Linked DNA regions of Homo sapiens: region 2 is linked to region 1. A link means that fine-mapping ties the variant in region 1 to the expression of a gene that starts in the linked region. Tissue or cell type: monocytes after Pam3CSK4. Region 1 holds a variant in brackets; the other region holds the start of a gene. All regions are shown on one strand. Distances are from middle to middle.

Region 1 (2,753 bases):
CCGAACCTTCTGGGCATCTGCGAGGCCCTCCTGACCTGGATCCCTAGCACCCCGACCCAGTTCTGTGAAGCGTGTCTCTGGGCGCTCCTGAAGGCAGGACTGAGAGCTCCTGTCCCTCCCCTTGCTCCGTTTCCATGTTCTGGGAGGAAAGAATGAATGGAAGTTGCGAGAAACTGGGCTCACATGTTCAGCAGTCGGCATTGACTGAACAGTCCTGTGCCAGGTGCCTCACTTGCCTTGCATTTTTTTTTTCAGTGTAAATCCACCCTTTATTGCCTCCAAAAAGATATTTTCTACAGCTTTACCCAGGTATAACTGACATTTAATGAAGCAGTACAATTTGATGAGTTTGACATGTCTACACCTGTGAAACCGCCCCCTGAAGCCATGTGCCCCTCTGTCGCCCGTCCCTCCTGCCCCTGCCCACCCTCTCTCTCCAGACAGACTCTGATCTGCCTCTGTCACTGTGATGAGTGTGCATTTTCTAGAAACATCTGAATGGAATCATTCTTCACACACTCTTCTCCCATCTAGTATAAGGAGGTGACGTGGAACTTTCTGAGAAATGGTCAAACTGTTTTCCAAGGGGGCTATGCTGTTTTCCGTTCCCGCCAGAGAGGAGTGGGGAGGTCAGGGGGGCAGCTGCCGTTCCGGCCAGCACTGATTGTCTGTCACTGTCGCCGTGGGCGTGTGGTGGCATCTCACTGTGGCTTTCATTTGCATTTCCTGGTGGCGAATGACTCCGAGGTTTGGTTCTCACGGCCTGCCCGTGAGGTAGGAGGTGTTGGCCCAGTTTCCCAGGGAGGAGGCTCAGGAGCAGAGCCATGGGGTAACCTGCCCGAGGCCACCCCGCCCCGAATGGGAGAACCGAAGCTGTCCCTGTTGCTCACCTTCTTCTTTCCTGAGCTGGTAGATCTCTTGTGACCCCATTAACTCTGAGCCCCACCGGGTGTCCGGTCAGGGCAAGGGACAAGCTGAGGGAGGAAGAAGGAGCCGCCAGCTTCCCCGCCCCAGGCTCTCTGTCTTCAAAAGCAGCAAACACGCCCGGCCCTCAGCATGGAGCCTGGCCAGGGGCCCCTTCTTTTCTATCAGCCTCAAGTCACTAGACGCCCATAGCGCGCTCCTCTTCTCTTCTATCAGCAGGAGCAGAGTCCCCCAGCGAAGTCTCCCCGCTCCCCACAGAGCCCCTCCAGCCCGGCTCCCTCATCCCTGGAGAGGATCCCAATCTCCTCAGAACTCACCCTCCCACGGCTGCCTCTGCTGTGGGGACTCCCGAGGCTGTGGACAAGTGGCTGGAGGCACCCCCCGTCGGAGGGGCGGGTGGCAGGAGCGCCTCTGGGGCGGGGCAGCCACCTGGGGAAGAAAAGGGGGGGCCACGGGGCCCTTGGGTGCCCGGCCCGCCCCATACACAAGGCCAGCTTCCCTCTTAGCACACAGGGCTGTGTCCCTGACACAGATTAACCAGACCCCAGAGCGGGGGAGTTGATGGCTCTGAGATAAGCTTGTGCCCCCCACCCCAAGTCATGGTGTCAAATCTAACTTAAGGGGTTTCTCAGCCAAAATGCCGTTTGCCACCAGGACTGTCCCAACAAAGGACTTTCCCTCTCCCCTTGGCTACTCTTTCTCTTGGTCTTGGTCCTTATCGCGATCCTCAGCAGCACAGGCAGGCTGTGTGTGTGTGTGTGTGTGTGTGT[GTC/C]TGCACTTGCACACGTGGTGTGCCAGCAGCTGCGGAGTCATTTGGGCCTGAGTTCTACGACTGAATCCTGTTCCCCTGCGAGGCTTTGTCCCGTTAATGAACTCTCTGTGATTCATTTCACTTCTCTGCATAATGGGCATGACACAGCCTGGAAGTTGGGCGTGATAAGTCAGTTAAAGGGGAAGTGTCATGTCCAGAGCCTCTGCCTGAGCCTGCACCAAGCAGGCACCTCCACAGGTTTTCTCCCCACTTGTGCCCCTTACTTTTGCCCTGGCCTGCGTCCTGAGCCAAGGGACGGAAGGGAAGGTCTGTGGGTCGGTTCCAGGCGGGGGTAGAGCCCTGAGCTGATGAGGGTTCTGAGCCTGGGGTCCACCCTGACAGTGGAGAACCTGCAATGCTGGGCCAGGAGCCTGAACTTCAGGCTGCCAAAAGTAGAGTAACTCAGCAGGGGCGAGTTCCCAGGGCCCGTGTCCCCTTCCTTCTCCTCACCTCCAATAGCAAAGGGAGGGGTCAGCGGCTGCCCGCCTGTGATAAATCCGAGAAGGAGCCCGGCCAGCCCAGATGTAGAAAACGGCCGACTTGCTCTCGGAGTTTTGTAGCTGCTTTGACTAAAAGCAGCATCACCCCCACCACACCCCAGTGCAGAGAAGTGAACCAGCGCTGAGTCACAAAGCACAGCCCCAAACCTGCCCTGGGCCACAGCCCGCCCACCGCACCCCCAGCTTCCTGAGGTTGGGTCATGGGAGCAGAGACCTGAGAGATGAGGAGGTGCATTGAGGTCTGGGAGGAGCATGCTAAGCCCATGGGATGGCAAGAGCAAAGTCCCCCAGCAAAGGACAAGAGAGCGGCCAGGGCAGCCGTGCCCGAGACTGAGCCTGGAGGGTGATGGGCAGCAGGGACTGTCCGGAGCCTTGTTGGCCAAGGATGAGTTCAGTTCTCATCTGAAAGCCACCAGAAGGTTTTAGGCTGGGGAAGGGCAGGATCTCATGCTTTAGAAAGGCACTGCTGGCTGGGCGCCGTGGCTCATGCCTGTAATCTCAGCACTTTGGGAGGCCAA
Region 2 (2,620 bases), 120 kb after region 1:
AAGAGGGAGTCTGAATTTCTGGAAAGTCGGCACCTTCTCCTCCCATCTGTCTGCACTCTCAAATCTCCCATTCTAGAGATTCTCCGGATTTGCTCCAGTCTCCACTCAGAATGGGAAATTCTTTATGATCCATTCTCCTTAGACCTGCTGGAATCGGGATCATAGCAGCGTGAACCCAGAGGGCAATTCTCATCTTAAGATGGCACAGGGACCACGCGCCAGACGGGCAGGGCAGCCACCCTACCTGGATGGAGTTAGGGAACTGGGGAAGTGCAAGGAGAGACAGGAGTGGTTTAAGAGGAAAGGGAGCTGCCAGGGATGACCCTGAATGGGAGGGGCCTGGGGGAATCTTTCTCGCTTCAGCAGGGTGTTCCCCAGGAGGAGAAAATCAGAAATCAACATCCAGGGAGAGGATTTCAGCTTTTCAAGTGACCTCTCACAAATAATACCAGAAACAAAAGCGTGTGCACATGTGACAACGATGTGAAAAATGATGTATTTAGGTGCATAACCTGGAAAGCCTAAAAGATACATAAAAATTGCTTTTTTTTTGCGGGGAGAGATGTTATGGGCAGGGTTTTTTTTTGCGGGGGTGGGAAGGGGTAGTAATAGGTGTTTTCCTGCAAATTGTGCTTAATGTCATTTCTCATTTTAAAGAAAACCACAATACTTGGCATTGTCACAGAAACTCCCCTGGATCTTCTGGGACCTACCTTTTCACAAGGGAATTTTTTGTTTTAGGATGCCCATCTGAAAACTTGAATTTATCATGTAAATGCCATACTGAAGACACCGTCTCCAGAATCAATTCTTCTTTAATGGGGATGCGGTTTGCTTAATTCGGAGCCCTAATGGCAACGTCATTAAGGTCTGGGTTTAGTGTCTTGGGATCCAAACCTTTGTCACGGATAGAAAGGTGGAGGAAAGAAAGGCCCCCGTGCTCTAAAACAGCTGAATATGTCACCCTCCGAAGTCCAGCCTCGGCCAGAGCCCGTGAGATGCAATGCACCATCCGCAGCGGGAGACGCAGCCGCCGCCTAGGAGGTCGTGCGCGCCTCTGGGTCTCGTGCCGCACCCAGAAGTGCCGGGGTGGCGGGGAGGCTGAGGGGAGTTGGTAACGGCATCGCCATGGCAACAGTGACGTCCTTTTACCCTGGATCTAATTGGAGGAAACCCCGTGGCCGAAGCCGCAGCCTGCCGGCCAACCGAACTTCCCCGTACCGACCCACCCTCCTAGCCTCCGCGTTCCCTCCCGCTCCGCCCCCCTCGCCCCCTTCCGCGCGCTCGGTCCTCATTGGCCAGCGGCGCGCTGGGGGCGGGACTCTCGGGAGAAGCTCGGCGCATCATTGGGCGGTGGACCGCCCCTCGGCCCCGGGGTAGGCTGACACGGGAGGGTCCTCAGCTAAAGCCAAAAGCAGATCAAAGTGGTGGGACTCGCGTCGCGGCCGCGGAGACGTGAAGGTGAGCGCCTGGGTCGGCCCGCGGGCTTCCTCCGGCCGCGCTCGGATTGAGGGCCGGGCGGAGGTGCCGCCCTTGAGAGCAGCCGGTTGTCGATGCCGCTCCCCTCAGGGACGGCTCCGGGCGGGAAGGTGCGGGGCCAACGGTCGCTTCCATCTTGGGCCGGCCGGGCGGGGGTGGCGGGAGCGGCCGCGGCTCGGGCTCCCTGCGCGCGGGGCCTCCGCGCCGCCCCCGCCTCCTCCAGCCGCGGGCCGCGGCCTCCCCGGGTGCCCAGCGGGGGAGGGGGCGGGGGAGAGGGAAATTCAAGCGGCCGCGTGTGCGGGAGACAAAAGCGGGCGGCGGGCCGCATTGTCTGACGGCGCTCCCTCTCTGCTTTTTGTTCTCGCCTCGCCGCCCCGCCCCTCCGCAGCTCTCGAGGCTCCTCCCGCTGCGGGTCGGCGCTCGCCCTCGCTCTCCTCGCCCTCCGCCCCGGCCCCGGCCCCGCGCCCGCCATGGAGAAGACTGAGCTGATCCAGAAGGCCAAGCTGGCCGAGCAGGCCGAGCGCTACGACGACATGGCCACCTGCATGAAGGCAGTGACCGAGCAGGGCGCCGAGCTGTCCAACGAGGAGCGCAACCTGCTCTCCGTGGCCTACAAGAACGTGGTCGGGGGCCGCAGGTCCGCCTGGAGGGTCATCTCTAGCATCGAGCAGAAGACCGACACCTCCGACAAGAAGTTGCAGCTGATTAAGGACTATCGGGAGAAAGTGGAGTCCGAGCTGAGATCCATCTGCACCACGGTGCTGGTGAGTCCTCGGCGCGGGGAGCAGGGGAGGCCTTTTGTGAGATGCTTTTCATTGAGAGTTTCGCGGGCACGGAAACAAACGTGAGCCGGGGCTTGCCGGACTGTCTGCTGGGGTGGAGGGTTTTAGGTGAGCCCTGACTTCCCTACTGTGTCCCTCCGGTTGTTGAGACTCAAGAAGCCGCTTTTCCAAGGATAAGTCCTTTTTTTTCGCCCCAGATGCTGGGTAGCTACCAAACGATGGAACTTGGAAACATCCAAGTAGGTCTCTGCGAGACTGAAAGGCGTTTTTAAGTTTCTTGTGCGGGGAGACTGCGTCCTGAGATCTGTGAGCCCTTTAAATGTATTCAGTCGGTTCACAAGCTTCAGGCAGTTGAAAGA

The links. PIP is the estimated chance that this variant, and not a neighbour inherited with it, causes the effect.
Region 2: it holds the start of YWHAQ, and the variant in region 1 is fine-mapped to the expression of YWHAQ in monocytes after Pam3CSK4 (Quach 2016, PIP 0.95).

What each region holds. Positions count from the first base shown.
Region 1 is chr2:9,752,401-9,755,153 of GRCh38, reverse strand. It overlaps LOC124905969 (a long non-coding RNA gene), which reads right to left and starts at 2,322. Exons shown (of 3, transcript XR_007086205.1): 1 at 2,186-2,322; 2 at 891-1,353; 3 at 301-763. RefSeq lists enhancers at 467-616, 514-1,300, 1,301-2,087. The variant GTC/C (reference allele first, on the strand shown) is at 1,695.
Region 2 is chr2:9,629,782-9,632,401 of GRCh38, reverse strand. It overlaps YWHAQ (tyrosine 3-monooxygenase/tryptophan 5-monooxygenase activation protein theta), which reads left to right and starts at 1,405. Exons shown (of 6, transcript NM_006826.4): 1 at 1,405-1,461; 2 at 1,868-2,243. The coding sequence starts at 1,950. RefSeq lists silencers at 1,084-1,253, 1,304-1,403, 1,604-1,953 and enhancers at 2,074-2,173, 1,917-2,620.